Linked DNA regions of Homo sapiens: all the other regions are linked to region 1. The links come from fine-mapping of genetic effects on gene expression. A gene starts in region 1. Each other region holds a variant in brackets. All regions are shown on one strand. Distances are between the middles of the regions.

Region 1 (5,148 bases):
CCTTAGCCGAGGCTCTTAAAATTTTAACCTGAAATTTTCAGGCCATGAAGGAAAGGCAAGGTCGGACATGCTTCATTATACCTCTCCAGCGTGAACATCAACCAGAGTTTAGGTCTGATAAGAAACATTTTACTGCCTGTTCACTCTGAAGCCTGCTAGCTAAAAGCTTCATCTATGTGATAAAACTTTTGTCTCCACAACCTCTTATCGCAACCCAAACATTCCTTTCTATTGATCCTGGGCCTTTAGACAAACTCAACCAATTGTCAACCAGAAAATGTTTAAATATTTACCTATATCCTGGAAGCCACCCCCACTACCCACCCACCACCCCCCGCCACTTTGAGTTGTCCCGCCTTTCTGAACCAAACCAATGTATTTCTTAAATGTACTTGACTGATGGCTCTTGCCTCCCTAACATGTATAAAACCAAGCTGCACCCCAACCACCTCGGGCACATGTCCTCAGGACTTCCTGTGTCACAGGTGTGCATCTTCAACCATGGCAAAAGAAACTTTCTAAATTAAATGAGACCTGTTTCAGATTTTCTGGGTTCACAAGAGCTATCTTGGACATTGGAAGATGTTCAGCGGCATCCCTGGCTTCTACTTAGTAAAGGCCAGTAGCACCTCATCTCCTAGCTGTGACCATAAAAACTATCTCCAGACATTCCCAAATGTCTCCTGGGGTGGGTAGGGGACAAAACTGCCCCCAGTTGAGAACCACTGCTGTAGACCATGCACAGTTTTCCAGTGAAACCCAAATTCTTCCCTACTACTGTAGAGAAGAAGAGGAGGTAATTTCTGCCCATCTGCATTTCTTGGCACGCACCCATGTCTCTGTGTGTGAGATGAGAATCACACCCTAGCTCCACAACAGAGTGGTCACAGTAGCCAACACAGGCAGTATTCTAAATGCTCTCTCCCTATAGTAACCCAACTAATCCTGCCAGTTAAATATGAGTTTCAGGTAAACAATGAATCATATTTTCTTTTAGAATAAGTATGTATGCCCATGCAATATTTGGGCCCTACATATACTTTAAAAGTATCTGTTGTTTATCTGAAATTCAAATTAAACATTTGGGAGGGTTGTTGTTTTATTGGCCAAATCATTTTATTTTATTTTATTTTTGATATGGAGTTTCGCTTTGTCACCCAGGCTGGAGCGCAGTGGCGCGATCTCGTCTCACTGCAACTTCTCCCTCCTGGGTTCAAGCGTTTCTCCTGTCTCAGCCTCCCGAGTAACTGAGATCACAGGTGCCTGCCACGACGTATTTTTAGTAGAGACGGAATTTCACCATGTTGACCAGGCTGGTCTCGAACTCCTGACCCCAGGTGATCCGCCTGCCTCCGGCCTCCCAAAGTGTTGGGATTACAGGTGTGAACTACCGCACCCAGCCTTATTGGCCAAATCTGACAACCCTATCTATAATCAAATAAACAGCTGAGCAGTAGTAATTGCAGCATTGTGATTGCAATAGGCCTCCGGTGGCTTAGAGTCCCTGTTCTGCCTGTGACTGTTGTGCCACATTGGGGACGTCATTTAGCGTCTCCGAGGCTCAGTTTTCTCATCTGTAAAATGGGGACAATATCAGCGCCTTCTTCAGAGTCGCTGGGAGGATTAAATGAGATGATGTATGCAGAGCCGTTAAGACGCTGTTTGGCACAAAGTTCAGGGCAGCTGGTTTAGTTTCCTCGACTTCACTACCTGACCCTCTGCTAACTCCCCGGGTGTTTTCCGGACGGCCACAACTATCCTAGCCTTCTTCCCTATGGGCTGCAAAGGTGGCCTCGGGTTCCGGTGGGAGCCCCAACTCTGGACCGCGATTCGCGAGCCTCCCCGGCGCCGGGCCGCGCCATCCCGGGAGCTGTCCGCAGATGGCAGCACCGGCCCCGGGTCGCGGCGTTCCCGGCGCTCGGCAGGCCGCAGGATGGCCTGGTCCCGGGCCGGGAGCCCAGCAGGCCGGGAGCGGCTGAGGCCACACCCCGCGGGCCGGGCCGCTTCCCTCCGGTGAATCATCGCTCGCAGCGGCGGCGCCCGCAGTGGCCGCAGCAGCGCGCCGGGCCCTGGCCGCGCCCCAGCCGAGCGCAGCGCGGAGTCGCCCCGACCTTTCTCTGCGCAGTACGGCCGCCGGGACCGCAGCATGGCGGGCATCGCGGCCAAGCTGGCGAAGGACCGGGAGGCGGCCGAGGGGCTGGGCTCCCACGACAGGGCCATCAAGTACCTCAACCAGGACTACGAGGCGCTGCGGAACGAGTGCCTGGAGGCCGGGACGCTCTTCCAGGACCCGTCCTTCCCGGCCATCCCCTCGGCCCTGGGCTTCAAGGAGTTGGGGCCCTACTCCAGCAAAACCCGGGGCATCGAGTGGAAGCGCCCCACGGTAGGAAGCGCGCGGCAGGACGCGGGCAGGGCGGGGTGCCGGGCAGGGCGGGGTGCAGGCCGGCCCGCGGCGCGCTGGGGCGGGGGGCAGCCCGGGTGCTGCAGTGGGGAAGCCGCAAGCCAGGACCTCGCAGTCCTGCGACACCTCCGCGCCGCCAGAGCCCGGGACTCTGTTCGAGCGTGGGGGGACTCCCGGGGCCTTCCCTCTCTTCCACCCACCACGCTTTCCTGGGCGGGTCGAGGCGAATCACTGCCCTCAGATCCCACTAGCAGGCCACTTTAGGACTTCACAAAAACTCAGGGTGATGCAGGAGGCCGGGGTGAAACTTTGATTGGACTCTAGCGGGGAGCTGGAAGGGAAGGGGAATCGGGTCTGCAGGGAAGGGACGGTGAGAGGCAGCATCTACCAGACAAAGTCCGTCTCCAACTGGGGTTCTGTCTGTTCATGGAGGGGGACAGGCCATAGCCTGGTCATTTTGTGACTAAGGATAGTCTCCTGCAGCCCTGGGGTTAGATTTATTTTTCCAAAGGGGAGCCAGCGATACCTCCTCATAACATTGACACTGGTAATTAACCCAGGACACGGAGGTGTCTCATGGTTTCCCTGGCGGGAATCACCCGGGAAACCTCCGGGAGCCCTCCAGACCCCCTTATCCCGTCCCCCAGGGTCTCTGACCTCCCGGCCCTGGGACAACTTGTGCTCCCCAATCTACTTGTCCATTCTGTTTCTTGGGGAACCCCTGAGGCTCCTCCTCCTTTGGGACACTTCCCCAGGCTTCCCCTACCACGCCTAGGAAAGCCTGCCCTGAAGTCCAACTTCTAGATTCCTGTTGTGAGAACAAGGCTTCCAGCTCTGCTTCCACACCCAGCAGCCTCCCAGGTCACCTTCTGTTACCCTAAATCCAGCCCATAGGTAGCAAGGGCTGCAGGAAGCGCCCTAGCCCAGACTCAGAGCACTTGGGTTCTTCTTCTTGCTAACCTGCTGGTGACCTTGAACGAGCCATTTAACCTCTCTGTGCCTCCATGTCTTCATCTAAAAGAAAACATGCTGCCTAAATATTTTCTCTCTTTTGTGGCCCACTAGGCCCTGCCGTCATGGCCTCCTTTCAGTCTCTCAAAGAGCCGGTTCTTTCCTGCATGAGGCCTTCTCACCAGCAAGGCACGCTGTTACCTGGAGTGTGGCTCACTCTCATTCTTCCCAACTTAGTCACATGTTCCCTTCCTAAAGAGGTCTTTTCTGACCCTTCTTAGCAGCCACCTCCCCACCTTGTTTTTCTCTGTCACCCCACTCATTTCCTTCATAGCATTGTCACAGTTTAGAATATAATCACATGTATTTGTTCTTCCTACTGAACTGCAGGAATCATGTGTATATTATTTACCAGTATATCCCCAGTGCCTGACACATAACCATGCCTTTCACAGTATTCATTCATTCATTCATTCATTCATTTACTCACTCATTTGACAACACTGATTGAGCACCTGTTACATGCCAGGCACTGTCCTGAGAGCTCAGGAGATACACCAGTGAACACAAAAGAAGTGACTGTTTGTAGAATATGGATGCAGGATTGTAATGTGCCTCAAATGAAATTATGGTTGTGAAAGTGATACGCTGACCTGACTCAGTGCCTCACACCTGTAATCCCAGCACTATGGGAGGCCAAGGTGGGAGGATCGCTTGAGCCAGGAGTTCAAGACCAGCCTGGGCAACACAGTAAGACTTGTCTCTATAAAAAAGTAAAAAAAAAAAAAAAAAAAGTGAAACACAAACCAAGAGAATGTGTTCACTTTACATTTGCATGGCACTTTACAGTTTACATAGTGAGTTCACATACTCATTCACTTATTCTTTCATTCATTCAGTAAGCATTTCTCGAATACCTACTATATGCTGGGCACAATGCATATGGTTTCTGCTTCTGAAGACTTACTTCTGAGGCTAGTGAGGGGACAGAGACAGGTCCCCCAACAGTTGGAAATGCCTGTGGGACTTCCAGATGAGGATGTAGAGGTCTAGAGATGATCTAGCGCCACTGCTTAGGGCAGGCGGGCTGTGCACTGCACAACTAAGGAAGAGTGTGACTTTTACGATCCCCATTTGCCAGTTGAAGAAATTGAGGCTTGGGAAGGTTAAATACTTGCTCAGAGTCAAGTGGATATAGGGCATAGATCCAGGACTGTGTGTAGTCTGTGCATGTTGAGCCTACCCCTTATGGCTGCGCTCTCTGCCTCCTTCCTACCTTCTCAAATGCTGCTGAGGTCAGGCAAGGGGAGCACAGTTGTTTCCGCTGGATTTGAACACTAGCAAGTCATTGGTGAGTTTAGCAGAGCAATTTCAATGGAAAGGTGAGAGTAGAAGCCAGATTGTTGTAGACTCCAGAGTAAAGGAACTGGAAATTAAGAACATGATCAACTTATTTAAGAAGGACCCCCGGGAAGAGAGGAGAACTGATAGGTAGAGTAGGACCTGGACTTTGAGAGCCTGTGTTTTTTTCATATGAGAACAACTTGAATGTGTCATATGTTGAATCACCAGGAAGAAGGGATTAAAGATAAAGGCAGGGAGGGGGCAGTGAAACAGGATCCCTGAGGAAGTGAGAATACGGGTTGTGGGCAGGGGAGGGGAGCAGGTTAGCCTTGCAGCAGGAGGAGCTGCTCTTCCTCGGAGAGAGGATTTCACAACACTGGCAAGAGTGGCTCCAGTGCCTGGAGCGGGGATTAAAGCAGTAAGTCCAGTGGGGTCCAAGGGCCATGCAGGGG
Region 2 (5,148 bases), 44 kb after region 1:
TAAGCGAATGGCCGTGGCTACGTTCCAATAAAACGTTATTTACAAAAACAGGCAGCGGCCTTCGGAGCCATAGCTGCCAACCCCTACACAAGATGGTGCCTGTAATTTCACAGTTAGGGTTTTATCCCATTAGGTATGGAAAGGCAATTAGCATAATTCCCCTTAAACATGAATGAATCTTAGATTTTTTAAATAAATAGGTTTTGGAAGTAAAGAGGGCAGAGACATCAGGAGCAGGGCAAGGGAATAGGCCTGAGAGGACAAGGGACGCAGAACAAGAAAGAGTCTGGAATTATACACAGGATGTTCTTGGCCTCCGGGCTCACCGAGGGGGCGGCGACCGGCAAGTGCAGGGAGCAGATCCCGGAGTCCCCCAGGCCAGCCGAGCCCCGCCCCAGGCTCCCCATCAGAGCCCAGTGAAGAGAAGGTACCATGAGGGGAAGCCACAGCTCTAACCACCCTGCGTTCCAGAGTGACAGACCAGTCCCCAAGACAAGCCAGCCTGGAGCCAGAGAGAGAACTGCAAGAGAAAGTTTCTAATTTAGGTTCCTGTTAGATTCAGACAAGTGCAGGTCATCCTCTCTCCACAGCTACCGTCACCCGTCTCCAGCCTAACAAAGCCTGCAGTCCACACTCCAACCCTGGTGTCTCCCACCTCCTAGCCTCTCCCAACATCGCCTGCCGTCTCTGACCATCTTCTGCCATCCTCTGCCATCTCCCACCATCTCCCACTGTCTCCCACAGCCTCCCACCGCCTCTTGCCAACTCCCACCATCTCCCGCCATTTTCTGACATCTCCCGCTGTCTCCCACCATCTTCTGCCATACTCTGCCATCTCCCACCATCCCCCACCACCTCTTACCATCTCCCACCACCTCCCACCATCTCCCTTTATCTCCATCCCTCTCAGAAGCCTCCAAGCCTGAGACCAGGGCCACCCCCCACCCCCATGCATTCCTGCTCAGGGCTGGGCTCCTCTGCCCCTTTCTGGCTGCAGACACATTCTGGATGAACCCTCAGTACCTGATCAAGCTGGAGGAGGAGGATGAGGACGAGGAGGATGGGGAGAGCGGCTGCACCTTCCTGGTGGGGCTCATTCAGAAGCACCGACGGCGGCAGAGGAAGATGGGCGAGGACATGCACACCATCGGCTTTGGCATCTATGAGGTGCAGAGCGCAGGGGCTCCTGCCCTCCCTTCCCCATGTGTTCATCTCAGCCCCTGCATGGAAAGCTGACCCCAGAGGCAGAACTGGGGATGGGATCCCAGACCGGGAGCTTGGCCAAGGAAAAACAAAACTACCAGCCTGGCCAGGCTCAGGAGTAGCCCCCGTAGGGAGGCCCCTGCAGTGGCTCTGGGTTGTGGGGCCTTCTAAGCCCTTCACGGGCCCCCCACAGCCAGCCTGCAGGGAGTTCCACTCTCAAATGGCCTCCACATCCCTTCTCACATCCTCCAGGCCTGGCATTCTGGTCAGCCTACCCATCTTCAAAGAACAGAATATACTGGGCCACATCAGGCAATACTGTGAGGGCAGGACTGAGTCCATGGGTGCAGCTGCTCAGAGCTCGGCAAAGTCATTGGCCTGGATGGTGGAGAGCTTGGGGACAGGGGAACATTGGTCATGATGCTCCCCCCAGGGCTCTGATGGCTGGAGCCCAGATCCCTACACAGACTCCTGCTGTATGCGTGTTTTCCTTTCACTCTGAGCCACAGCCAGAGGGCAGCCGCATTGCAGTCTCCTCTCCGCCCTCAGGCTGGGGCTGGGGCACTGAGAACTCACCCAACACGCTGGGCCCCTGGGCTCTCCCCACTCCCTTCTGCAAAACAAGAAAGAGCTTTCGTGGGCTGCAGGTAGCCATGCGAGGAGAGGGATGAAAGGAAGGCTTTAGGGCACTGACTGGGGATGCATTTCGGTTTGATGGGCTGGAGCTGGCTCCTCCCGGCTCCCAAAGCCCATCTCTTTTCTCTGACCCATGTCTGCTGAGGTCCTTCAGCAGCCTGAAAAATGGCCCTGGCAGGGACCTGTTTACACCATGGAAAGTGGCAAATAGTACAAATCAGAGCTTCCACCCTCTCCCAAGAGCCAGTTTCCCAGCACACCCCTGGGAGAATCCAGACGAGGTGTCAGGAGAGGAGGCTCTGTGCTCACCACTGGCAACGTTGCCACCCATGGAACACTGACTTCTACCTGCTCACCCACCTGAGAAAGGCAGCTGGGCAAATACCATCAGTTGTAAAAATGCACATAGGCCTAAACCCCTCCGTCTCTGAAACAGGAGCTGAGGACTTCGGATCTGGGACAGAATCG[A/C]TCCAAGGACAATGCAAATGGAATTGTGATACACAGCTTCCCTCCCACCGGCTTATGGGCTTGGAAATGCAGCCACGGGCTTTCAGAGTTGGGACGGACCTTGGGGATCACTGGGTCCTATTTTTGAGACAAGAAAACTGAGGCCAGAGAGGAGAGGGGACTTGCTCAAGGAAATGCAGACCGGACCACTGGACCTGGCTGACAGAGGCCGGCACTGCTGGCTCCTAGCCCCAGGTGTATTTCACCTCGCCTGCTGCCTCCTCCAACAGGGCCCGCCTGGCCCTCTTTCCCTGCGTGGGAGGCCGATATGGGCTTTGCCACCTTAGACAAGTCTCTTCACATCTCCATGCCTGAGATTTATACTCTAAGTTAGGAAGGGAGGTGAGGGCTTATCAACATAAGAGGATTTTCTTCAGTGTTGGAGAGGCTTTGAGTTCCTTGGAAAACAGTTACTCGGTTGAATTAGTTGATATTGCTAATGCTACAGAGAAAACGGGGGCAGCGGAAGAGAAGAGCACAGTGATGCATTTTCTTACACTGCTTTTCCGGCATCTGAATTGCATCTCCTTTATTTTGCAGGTTCCAGAGGAGGTACGTCTGGCCCATGTCCCGGGGTGCTCAGGTCACCAAAAAAGCGAGAGGCTTAGACTGCTGGAGCTCAGGGAGCGTCGTGAAGCCCGGGCAGGGGCTGGTGGTCATGAAGGATGAGTCCTGGCCACCCCTGGGGCCCTGCTGAAGTTGCCCAGGCTCTAGATCCCACTGGTCTAAGCTCTGGGCAAGGTTTCTGGAAAGTCCTTGTGGGACCCGCTGCCTCCCTGTGACCTGGCAGAGCCCATACAGGGTTTGGTTCTGGGCAGAAAATCCATGATCCTGAGACTGCAGGAGGCTTTTCACAAAGTTCTTTGTCACTCTTAGGAGAAGACTGAGTCAGGGAAAAGGTGAACCCTGCAGACTGTACTAGAAGACAACGCGGGAGCACAGAGGAGACCAGGACCCAATTCCCAGGCTGTGTGACCTTGGACACGTTACAGCTCCTCTCTGCATTTCAGGGTTTTGTTTTTTTTTTTTTTGATTTTTGGTTTGTTTGTTTGTTTTTTGTCTCGCTCTTTCACCCAGGATGAAGTGCAGTGGCATGATCTCGACTCACTGCAACCTCTACCTCCTGGGTTCAAGTGATTCTCCTGCTTCAGCCTCCCCAGTAGCTGGGACTACAGGCACGCACCAGGATGCCAGGCCAATTTTTGTATTTTTAGTAGAGACGGGGTTTCACCATGGTGGCCAGGCTGGTCTTGAACTCCTGACCTCAGGTGATCCACCCCCTTCAGCCTCCCAAAGTGCTAGGATTACAGGTGTAGCCACCGTGCCTGGCTGCATTTCAGTTTATTTTTCAGTAAAACTGGTCAACCATCCACCTCACTGCACTACCGTGGAATGACTTAAATTTTGCGAGAGCATTTGGGCCCACAGTCACCGCTTGCTGAAGCAGATGGGATGCCTGGTCCAAGGTCACGATTATTAAAGTAGACACACGGGGCACTTTGACCCACCTGTAGTACATTTCTTTCACAGCAAGGCAGTGCAACCGGTAGCACATCGGGCTCTTTTAGATGCTGCTCCAGCCTTGGTCCGGTGGATCATGCTTGGTTTAGAAGCTGGGTTGTCTTTCTCCTGCCCCCAGTCCTGTCTTTGCTTTTATAGTGCATCATACACCACGTAGAACCGAGCCAGGTTCCTGCCATGTGGACGCTGTTCCTGCCTGAGAGTCTCTTAGAGGAAGGCTGGGAACACTGTGGAAAGACTGGGCATCTCTGCAGGCGGAGCTGAATGGATGTGAAACCCCTGTGGGCATGTGCTTCCGAGTTCCTCAGCAGGCATTTGTGTTTTTTGGTAGAAAGTTTGCTTTTTGTTTTTTTTTTTTTTAAGACAAGGTCTCATTCTGTCACCCAGGCTAGAGTACAGTGGTGTGATCATAGCTCACTGCCGTCCTTGAACTCTCAGACTCACGTGAGCCTCCTACCTCAGCCTCCTGAGTAGCTGAGACTACAGGCGCTTGCCGCCACCCCTGGCTAATATTTTTATTTTTTGCAGAGACAGGGGTCTCACTACATTGCCCAGGCTGGTCTCAAACTCCTGGCCTCGAGCAATCCTCTCACAGCCTCCCAAAGTGCTGGTATTACAGGCGTGAGCCACCACACCTAACAAAAGTTTGCTTTTTATCTAAAATGACCCAGGCATTGTCACTGTACTGCTATTTTTTTAAAAAAATTTTGTTGTTTTGTTGTTGTTGTCGTCGTTATATAGATGAGGGCTTCCTGTGTTGCCCAGGCTGGTTTCTGACGCCTGGCCTCGCCTCCTTATACACCAGGACAGCAGGACTGAGCCACCACACTACCCAACTGCTTTTATCTCAGTGAATGAAAATGATACTTGCCTGGAGGCTTCCCCTCATCTACCCCCATGTTTCTCTATTTATTCCTCAGTTAAGTGGGCAGACCAACATCCACCTCAGCAAAAACTTCTTCCTGACGAATCGCGCCAGGGAGCGCTCAGACACCTTCATCAACCTCCGGGAGGTGCTCAACCGCTTCAAGCTGCCGCCAGGAGAGTACATTCTCGTGCCTTCCACCTTCGAACCCAACAAGGATGGGGATTTCTGCATCCGGGTCTTTTCTGAAAAGAAAGCTGACTACCAGTAGGCGGTTTGGTCCCTTCCTCTCCCCACCCTTCCCTGTCCCTCCCCACTGGTCTGTTCCTCGGCCCCTAGAGGGCTCTTTCATCCTCTGAATGTCAGTTACTTTTTCTGTAACACCTGCCCACCTCGAAGGACTAGTGTGGGGATTT
Region 3 (5,148 bases), 190 kb before region 1:
ATAATATCCAGAATCTACAACGAACTCAAATAAATCAGTAAGAAAAAAACAAACAATCCCATCAAAAAGTGGGCTAAGGACATGAATAGACAATTATCAAAAGAAGATATACAAATGGCCAACAAACATATGAAAAATGCTCAACATCACTAATGATCGGGGAAATGCAAATCAAAACCACCATGAAATACCACCTTACTCCTGCAAGAATGGCCATAAAAAAAAATCAAAAAACAGTAGATGTTGGCATGGAATTCGAGTCCTGCCTGGGCAACATGGTGAAACCCCATCTCTACAAAAAACAAACCAAAAAAATTAGCTGGGCATGGTGGTGCATGCCCAAGTAGTTCCAGCTACTTGGGAGGCTGAGGTGGGAGGACCAACTGAGCCCAGGGAGGTTGAGGTTGCAGTGAACCATGATTGCACCACTGCACCCTAACCTGGGTGACAGAGTGAGTCACCGTCTCAAAAAAAAAAAAAGGTAGTGGATTGAACACATGGATCTAATATTCTTCCTTCACTAAACCCAACTAAAACTACAGTAGAGGATTTTTTCCAAATTAAAAAAAAAAAAAAAAAGGAAGCTGGAAAAAAGATGGACAGGTGGTAACTACCTTCTAAGCAGTCGTAAGGAAAACGAATCTGGCCATCCTCAGGCCATATCTCATAGGGACCCAAAAACAGTTATTTCCCATCCTGCTACCCTAGACACTGTCCCTTTGGATGACCACTGCCCAAGAGTCACTTGAGGGCAGCTTCTCCCTGTGGATGTGGCTCACTCTGTCCGGTGTCTCCCATGAGAAAGCCGGGAGACCCTTTACTCTACTCTTTCCAGGTGCTCCCAAAGCCATGACAACTCAAGAGGTCAACAACTCAAGACGACACCCCGTTCCTTTCCATCCTCATTGAGCCATCTCTGGGAGAGAGAAGGCCCTCCACTTCTTGGCATCACACTCCCAGTGCCTTTGCCACACTGTCCCTCCTAAGGGCAACTCTCTGTTTCCACCACTGGGCCAAGGAAGGGGACAAGTGCGAGGCCAGCACCTTCTTTCCCAGAACCAACATCCAGCCTGACACCCTGAAGTCCCCTTCCTCCATGTGTACCTTTAGAAGAAGGAACTTGTGCAAAAGCCTGCTGTGAAGCACCCCCACCTCCCAGAAGACCAGAGCTCAGGCCCAGGCTCCCCTTCACTGAGCACTATTGGCCCCAATATGAGCCCCTACTCCTTATGCAAGCTGTATTTTTTTTTTCTTTTTGGAGATAGGGCCTCACTCTGTCACAAGGTTGACTGTAGTGGTGCTATCATAGCTCACTGTAGCCTCAACCTCCTGGAACCAAGCAATTCTCTTACCCCAGCCTCCCAAGAAGCTGGGACTACAGACATGTGCCACCACACCCAGCTACGTTTTAAATTTTTATGGAGATGGGATCTTACTATGTTGCCCAGCCTGGTCTCAAATTCCTAGCCTCAAGCGATCTTCCTGCCTCAGCCTCCCGAGTCTCTAGGATTACAGACACGAGTCACCATGCCCATCATAAGTCATATTTTTAAAATCTTCTACAGGTGTTAGGGAATTGAGGAATAGATTGTGTCTAGCTTGTTTGCATTTACAATGATTATATTTGGTGAATTAGATGTAAAAGAGCCCCTCCTTACACAATATTTTTTAAATGTAATAGAATTCACTTTAAGATGTTTTAAATTTTCATTTCTAGTGGAGCTCTAGGCAATTGAATTCTTCAGCAGTCTACCATCTCTTAGTTTTTATCAGGTTCTGAGAAAAATGAAAAAAAAAATCAGAGTAGAAGATGTCATCAACATTACCATGACAAAGAAAGTTTTATTTTTCTGGACTAAGTGCCTTCTAATGTCAAAAAGAGAAAGAAAATGTTATTTTTAAAGAACAAAAACATTTCTAGGCTGAGCGCAGTGGCTCATGCCTGTAATCCCAACACTTTGGGAGGCTGAGGGGGGCGGATCACGAGGTCAAGAGACTGAGACCTTCCTGGCCAAAATGGTGAAACCCCATCTCTACTAAAAATACAAAAATTAGCTGGGCGTGGTGGCACATGCCTGTAGTCCCAGCTACTCGGGAGGCTGAGGGAGGAGAATCACTTGAACCCGGGAGGCAGAGGTTGCAGTGAGCTGAGATTGTGCCACTGCACTCCAGCCTGGTGACAGAGCCAGACTCC[G/A]TCTCAAAAAAAAAAAAAAAAAAAGAAAAAGAAATCTAAATTTTTTGTATGTGATGTTTGCTTTTAATACTAAAACCAAGAAGAACTGATGCTTATGGAGTGTGTGCCCAGTGCTTGTCCCTGAACTCAGTGCTGGATGTGCATTAATTCATTCAAATCTCACAGTAACTTAGGCCAGCAGGAGCCACTACTAACTACCCCATTTTACAGATGAAGAAACTGAGGGTTGATGAGATTAAGTAACTCATCCAAGGTCCCATGGCTAGTAAATGGGTATCCAAAATTTGTCTGACTCATAGCCTGAGTTTTAGCCACTACACATCCTGACCTCTTTCTTTTTCATTTTTGTTCGAGACAAGGTCTGGCTCTGTTGCTCAGGCTGGAGTGCAGTGGCGCTATCTCAGCTCACTGCAAGCTCTGCCTCCTGGGCTCAAGTAATCCTCCCATTTCAGCCTCCCGAGTAGCTGGGACTACATGCACATACCACCACATCCAGTTCATTTTTGTGGGGTTTTTTGGTTGTTGTTGTTTTGTTTTGTTTTGTTTTTTTGTAGAGACGGGGTTTCACCATGTTGCCCAGGATAGTCTCGAACTCCTGTGCTCAAGAGATCCACCCACCTTGGCCTCCCAAAGTTCCTGGATTACAGGCATGAGCCACCATGCTCAGTCGTATCCTGACTTTTCTGGAATTTTGTCTACAATTTCTCTATTTATGCTGCCTCTAATACTTCATTTTTTCCAGGCTTAAGGAAACTGAACTTCCGCCCAGACAAAGAAAGACTTTTCTGTCCTTTCAGATACTCCTTTATTTCTTGAGTCAAAGTGCAAACTTCCAGAAATCGGTTTCTCTGCCAAGGTATGTCAGAGTCCTAAGCACCCGAGCCTTGTTGCTGAATGGCATCAGGATCAAAGGCCTGTGACAGTCTAACTATCCTTGTTGTGCTTTCTCGAGAGGCCTATTCTAACACCTTTTTGTTTGTCCAACAGTGAGACTGAGAAGCACTTTCTAAACTTTAATTAGGCTGCTCTCCTGGGATTCTGTGCTCAGAGAGTCCTTCCCTGGCCTACAGCAGACAGGCTGCCCCTCTGGGCTTAGTTGGTGCCCTGGGTCCCCCAGAACACCCTTTTCTCATCCTTTCTGGGCACACAGAAACCTCCCAGATCATCCATGCCCAGTAGTTACCAAATGGGGCCCTAGCGGACCCCCCTACTTTGAGCCCCCCACCCTTTTAAGTACTCCACGTACCGCAGATGAAGCTGCCACAGTTGCCAGCACGTCAGCACAGGAACCGCCGCAGTCTGTCCCCCTTCCCCACACATCCCACTTTGACTCTCCATGTCGCCAGCTCCCGTTAAACTGGGCTCTTCACATCACTCCTGGGTTCTGCCTTTTCCATCTGACTACGTGGTGACCATCTATTCAGCTCAGGCCCTGGCCCCCTCAGACTCCGTTTCCACTGTTTGCTCATTGTCTCCCCTGCACCCCGGCCTCACAGGGTACCCCCACAGCTGTGCAGCCATCCACAGGCCCTTCCCATCTAGAGAGGGAAGCCGACAATGGAATCCCATTGGGGAGAGCCAGAAGGAGCATCCATAAAGTGCTAGACACTTGGCAATTGTCACTTAATCCTCACAACAACTTGTAATTTATTTATCCTCCACTTTATTCCAGAAATGGGTTAAGAAGCCTTATGAGACTACATAAAAGACCAACTTAGCATGAATTAAAAGCAGAAGCAAAAGAAGAAAGAGAAATAACAGGGCACATAAACCAAAATTAAAGAGCAAAATGTGCTACATAAATTCTTCGCTGTGTGTGGCTGTAACTTTGTCTCTGATATCCCCTTGCAGCCAAGAAGGGAAGGGGAGCCTGAGCGGTGCCGGAAGGCAGGTATTACCATTTCTGCTTTACAGGTGAAGAAGTAGGCCAGAGGTTGAGGGGTTTGCCCAGGGTCGCACAGCTGAGAGGTGGCAGATGAGACTTAAATCTAGGCCTACCCAGACAGAAGGCACTGTTTTTTGGGTTTTGTTTGTTTGTTTTGGTAGAGGCAGATCTTGCTATGTTGTCCAGGCTGGTCTCGAGCTCCTGGCTTCAAGCAATCCTCCCTCCTCAGCCTCCTAAAGTGCTAGGATTCCAGGCATGCACCACTGCACCCAGTCTCCAAAGGCACCTTCTAAGTCTTGTATTCATATTTAGGCTCTCCTGAGATCTGTCCCAGGGGCGCATCTCCAGTGTTCTTCTAGGACCAGAACTTTCTCCTGAATGAGAGGTATCCATCAGCTGCCATGGCTCTTCTCCAGCCACTGTGGCATCACCTGGACAATGCAATGGGCTTGTCTCTCCTGGGATTGTGGACAGTGGCAGTGGCTGTGAGGGAAGTGGGCTGTTATGGCGGCTCTGTCCTAGTCAGAGCAGAAACCAATCAACCTTTGGTTAAGGCAGGGCCAAGGGAGGGAGAGATAAAGGGGAGGTCCTTCAAGACATCCACACTTCTGTGTAACGGCCCTGCTCCCTGCTCCATCCAAAGGCAGCATACAACTAATAGACTTGTCATCTCGGGCGATAACATTAGCCTCATCATTACCATTTTACTAAATAAGTCATTTCAAATTAATTACCTTGCACTCTTTCAAATTAGCTCTGGTTGACTCCTCCATTCCTACTGATTATCACATTGGCAGAATTCATTAGTCCTGTAGATAAACTGAAGTGGTTGTGTGTGCACTGGGTATATAGATGAGCTCTTCCTCCCTGACACATGTGCCAGGGAGCCCAAGTGCATCCAGGAGGCTCCAGTCTGCAGTTGGGCAGCATGGCCGTGGGCCCATTGGTGACATCTCCCAAGTCTGGGACCCGTCAACTCTAGTCATTACCCTCGAAGGTTGCAGCATCCTATGAACAGCCTTGTCACTAGTTGGCTTTGTCCTTTGCCTCCCTCTTGGGTTCCATGAGA
Region 4 (5,148 bases), 51 kb after region 1:
GGGGGCATGGGCCAGTCCCTTGCCTATTGGGCTGTGCTAGCCACTGTCAAAATCCATCCACAACATTCCAGCTAGTCTTTATTCTTCTGAGTCCCCACTAGAATAGATCCTAAAAGGCCATTTTAATTGGATGCTAGAGAAGATACCTCTGTGAGAAATTAGAATATTACTCCTTCCCACATAATTTACATTCCTTCTTGTGTTTTAATTAGAAAAAAAAAACCTTATATTAATTCTTCACACTATACCTGATCTTAACCCAAATCACCGTAGAATTTGGGCCCCAGGGAGGGGTAGAGAAGGGGAGTGGGAGGTGGCTGCCATGGAAGGGCGGGCAGACACTTGGTGTCATGCCTCGCTCTGATGCATTCTCATGTCTCTGCCTCACCTTCCAGTTCGACATCAGCGAGGATGACATTGATGATGGATTCAGGAGACTGTTTGCCCAGTTGGCAGGAGAGGTAAATGTTCCCAAAAACGATGTTATGCACTCTGGTTGATGCAAAGGAAGAGACAGTGTGTGTCCCCAAGGGGACTTTAGTTTAAAGGGGAGAGGAAACAAACTGAACAAAAGCAAAGAGAAATTGCAAATGGCACTTGGGTTCCAGCTCAGCCCTCTTGCGTGTGTCCTCCCTAAGACCTCCGCATGCTGCCGGGGGCTTCCATTTGCATGGTCAGCCCTGACTCTGTGTTCCTCCTTCCTTAGGATTCCTGGGCTCACCTTGTGACTGTTTTATTTTCTCTGTTCTACACCAATTGAGGCATGAAACTTGGCCCCTTATCCTTGATTTCCACAAAGGATTTGGAGAGATGGAAGGGTTTCAAGTCTCAAGAATGCAGGCCACCTGCAACAGAGTGTTTGAATTAGGCTTTTCTGTTCTCTTTTCTTTTTTCTTTTTTTCTTTTTAGAGACAGGGTCTCTCTCTGTCACCCAGGCTGGAGTGCAGTGGCATGATCATAGCTCACTGCAGCCTCCACTTCCTGGGCTCAAGAGATCTTGCCACCTTAGTCTCCCAAGTAGCTGGGACTATAGGTGCACACCACCATGTCTAGCTAATTTTTATTTTATTTTTATTTTTGTAGAGATGGAGTTTTGCCATGTTGCCCAGGCTGCTCTGGAACTCCTGGGCTCAACAATCCTCCAACCTTGGTCTGCCAAAGTGTTGGGATTACAGATGCATACCACCATGCCCAGCTAATTTTTAAATTTTTTTTAGAGACAGGGTCTCACTTTGTTGTCCAGGCTGGTCTTAAACCCCTGAGCTCAAGCAGTCCTCCCACCTCAGCCTCCCAAAGTGCTGGAATTACGGGTGTGAGCCACCATACCTGGCCACTTCCCTGTTCTTAAAAAAATCCCTCAGCCATTTAGTCCCATCACAAAGTTATTTAGCCCTCTTTCTTCCCAACAACTCCAAAAAAAAAAAAAAAGTCCTCTTTCTTCACTATGTGGAGGAACTTTCCAATCATTGAGCTCATCTGGTACTCCCTTCGCTGACCTAAAGACCCATCAAAGTACTAAGCCAGGCATCGTCTGCTCTGCGCCTCCACCGGCCTCTCACCCTCTGCTCCCTCCCAGATTCCCAAGGAAAGGGGCCATGAGAGTCTTCTTTCCCCTCTGATTGAATCCCACACATACACACCCCAAAAGGCAAACATGACTGCAATCAATCTTGGTTTTAAACAAAGGAGTTTATCCATGAGTTACACAAATATGTGTAAGTGGATAGAGACATCTGAGCCCATGAGGGGCCCTGGCATGATGGGCATAGAGGAGGGCCGGCTAGGTCTTGGAGACAGCTGGTTTTCACCAGTTTTACAGGAAGTCTGAGCTTTGAGTTTTAAAGAATGAAGAAAACATGCCAGATAAGAGGAATGGTATAAGAGAATTAAGAAAGACCACAAACATGGGTAGAGGGGAGTATTTATTATTTATATTCTCTACAGCAAAGAAATGGTGAGTGAACTCTCCCTACTGCATCCGTACATTAAAACACCGTATCTAGGCTGGGCACAGTGGCTCACACCTGTAATCCCAGCACTTTGGGAGGCTGAGGCTGGAGGATCGTTTGAGCCTAGGAGTTTGAGGTTTCAGTGAGCTAGGATCATTCCACTGCAGTCCAGCCCAGCCTGGGTGTTCTAAAAAGAACCAAACCAAAAACACTGTATCTAAAATCCAGAATGGGGCAGTACTACTCAAAGTGTGGTCTGGGGACAGCAGCCCCAACATGGCTCGGGGGCTTGTTAGAAATGCACATTCATAGGCCCCACCGCAGGCCTACCTAATGCACTGGTGTCCTGCCCTGTGCTCATCCAGCTCCCACGGGGGGCCAATAACTATGCTCTGGTTA[T/C]GTGTCCACAGGATGCGGAGATCTCTGCCTTTGAGCTGCAGACCATCCTGAGAAGGGTTCTAGCAAAGCGTGAGTATCCCCTCATTGCAAAACCTCATCCTGCTCTTTCCCCTGTGGATGGGAGGGAACATGGAAATCTTTCCCCCTCCATGTCTGGCTGCTGTGACTAAACCACCACCCTCCATCCCCTCCAAGAAGTGGATGAAGGATTTGTATGATGTGATGAAAAAGAACAAGTGTTTGTAGCATCCACAGATCAAAGATCAAATCCAGGTTTCCACTACATACTAGCTTTGTGTGATCTATTTTTTTAATTTATTTTATTTTATTTTTGAGACAGAGTCTCACTCTGTCGCCCAGGCTGGAGTAAAGTGGCACAATCTCAGCTCACTGCAATCTCTACCTCCCAAATTCAAGCGATTCTCCTGCCTCAGCCTCCCAAGTAGCTGGAATCACAGGCAAGTGCCACCACAGCCAGCTGACTTTTGTATTTTTAGTAAAGACAGGGTTTCACCATATTGGCCAGGCTGGTCTTGAACTCCTGACCTCAAGTGATCCACCTGCCTTGGCCTCCCAAAATGCTGGGATTACAGGCATGCACTACCACATCCAGCTAATTTTTGTATTTTCCTAGAGATGGGGTTTCTCCATGTTGGCCAGGCTGGTCTTGAACCCCTGGCCTCAAGTGATCTGCCCACCTCGGCCTCCCAAAGTGCTGGGATTACAGGTGTGAGCCACCGTGCCCGGCCACATCTTGTAACTAACTATTTCTTAAGCAAAAAAATGTCAGAGGATTGATTGTTCAACCCCTTACTGTGGATCACCAGCAGGGAGGAGCGGGAAACACAACACAGAGACATTTTTTCCCCTCAAATTATCAAAAGAATCACGCTGCATTTGTTAAGAGAGCAACTGGCAATCCAGGAAGCAGAGTTTTGAACATATCAGAAGTTAGGAATCTGCATCAGAGACAAATGCAGTCATGGTTGTTTGCTGCATACCAGCCCTAGGGATCATCTCGAGAAGCCTCATGGACTTCAAGGGACATCATTCCCTCTGACAAGATGGCCTCTAGCCTAACTCCATGAGATAAAATAAATCTGCCTTTCAGAGCCAAAGAAGAGTCCAGGGCCAGCTGGGTCTTCCCTCCCAGTGTGAACCAAGAGGGCTGGGCCAGTCAGGTTACGGTCAGTCCAGTGCAGGGCCTCCCCAGAGGAGACCCAGTCTGCACCCGCCCTCCTCTAATTTTCAGGGAAGGCAAGAAGATTGTGTTTACCCTGGAGGCCACCAGGCACAAGTGAGGTCACAGAGCTCTTCAGATATGCAGTCCTCATGAGCTGAGGAGACTAAAGCCTCATTGTTTCTGCACAGATGGAGGGTGGGGCTGGGAGGTGGGGAAGAAGCGGGCCTTGCCTGGATTCAGCCCGCTCCTTGCTGGGGGAGCAGCATTCGCTCCGCGCGTGCCTCTGAGCTTACTACCCTACCCCTAGCTGCCTGCTGACTCCAGCCTTCTGGAGGGCTCCACACCAGAGTCTGCATGCACAGCTGCTGGGCCAGAGCCTTATGACCATCTAAGGGGTTGGTGCCCAGAGTGGCAGCTTTGAGGCAGGTCAGGCTCTAACCTCTTTCGGGGACATAACAAAAAGGCTGGGCTTTTCGTGAAGTCTGTGGGGAGCCAGGTTCACATTGGTGACTAGGGAGGGTCTCATGCCACCTGCCAAACACCAAGTGGACAGGACTCACTTAGTGCAGCACAAATAGCTCGTGGATCGATCCCAGTTCCTCAGGTTTCTCAGTCAGCTGGGGACACAGTCCATAAATGTCTGCAGATGGACAGTTCAAGTAAACCTCTTTCTCTCACGGGTCATAGCCTAGAATTAACACACCTGCTCTCTGTTTTCTTTTTCCCTGCCCAACAACTACAGGTGACTTTATATCCTGTGGGCACCTAAGGCCCAACCATTGATCATTCTGTTATTTATTTGTTCAAAAAGCACTTTTTAAAGCCCTGTTTGCCCACGGCAAATATACAGAGACATCAGGACAATGTGGACATCATCTGCACTGTCCCAGTCTGGTAGTCACTAGCCACATGTGGCTATTTAATATAATGGAAGTGGCTTCTGTATGTGAAGGGCACAGATAAAGAATATCTCCATGATTGTGGAAAGTTCAGTTGGACATCACCGCTCAGAGATTTTTCCTGTCACACTGATTTTGTCTTTTAGGCCAAGATATCAAGTCAGATGGCTTCAGCATCGAGACATGCAAAATTATGGTTGACATGCTAGATGTATCCTTTAATGTGCTCCAGGGAATAGAGACTGGGGGAGTTTAAAATCTCACTCCAGAAAGATTCAAACACATGGCCTTCTCCCTTTTCAAAATAGCCAGTTGTTCCCAACTTGCTGAGTTGCTGTCGGACAGTCAGCAGCGCTGACCTCCCTTACTAGGGAAATGCGAGAACCCTCTGATGAGGGAAAGCAAATGCTACACCCCCCCTCCCACCTACCCTGAAAGGCTTAGAATGCAGGCCCATGGCGGGCGGTGGCTCATGCCTGTAATCCCAGCACTTTGGAAGGCCAAGGTGGGCCTCCTGACTCACGAGGTCAGGAGTTCGAGACCAGCCTGACCAACATGGTGAAACCTTGTCTCTACTAAAAATACAAAAATTAGCTGGGTGTGGTGGCGGGCACCTGTAATCCCAGCTACTCAGGAGGCTGAGGCAGGAGAATCACTTGAACCTGGGAGGCGGAGGTTGCAGTGAGCTGAGATCGCGCCACTGCACTCCAGCCTGGGT

The links.
Region 2: its variant is fine-mapped to the expression of CAPN2 in whole blood (TOPMed, PIP above 0.99).
Region 3: its variant is fine-mapped to the expression of CAPN2 in blood mononuclear cells (TOPMed, PIP above 0.99).
Region 4: its variant is fine-mapped to the expression of CAPN2 in whole blood (TOPMed, PIP above 0.99).

Annotation. Positions count from the first base shown.
Region 1 is chr1:223,710,495-223,715,642 of GRCh38, forward strand. CAPN2 (calpain 2) reads left to right here and starts at 2,045. Exons shown (of 21, transcript NM_001748.5): 1 at 2,045-2,383. The coding sequence starts at 2,147. RefSeq lists enhancers at 1,642-1,691, 1,731-2,682 and silencers at 1,792-2,181, 2,392-2,511.
Region 2 is chr1:223,754,483-223,759,630 of GRCh38, forward strand. CAPN2 (calpain 2) reads left to right here. Exons shown (of 21, transcript NM_001748.5): 10 at 998-1,167; 11 at 2,887-2,898; 12 at 4,788-4,999. Among named protein-coding and RNA genes, the nearest start is that of CAPN2, 45 kb to the left of the region's middle. The variant A/C (reference allele first, on the strand shown) is at 2,308.
Region 3 is chr1:223,518,940-223,524,087 of GRCh38, forward strand. No RefSeq gene overlaps it. Among named protein-coding and RNA genes, the nearest start is that of CCDC185, 130 kb to the left of the region's middle. The variant G/A (reference allele first, on the strand shown) is at 2,195.
Region 4 is chr1:223,761,791-223,766,938 of GRCh38, forward strand. It overlaps CAPN2 (calpain 2), which reads left to right. Exons shown (of 21, transcript NM_001748.5): 14 at 396-461; 15 at 2,360-2,417; 16 at 4,577-4,641. Among named protein-coding and RNA genes, the nearest start is that of CAPN2, 52 kb to the left of the region's middle. The variant T/C (reference allele first, on the strand shown) is at 2,349.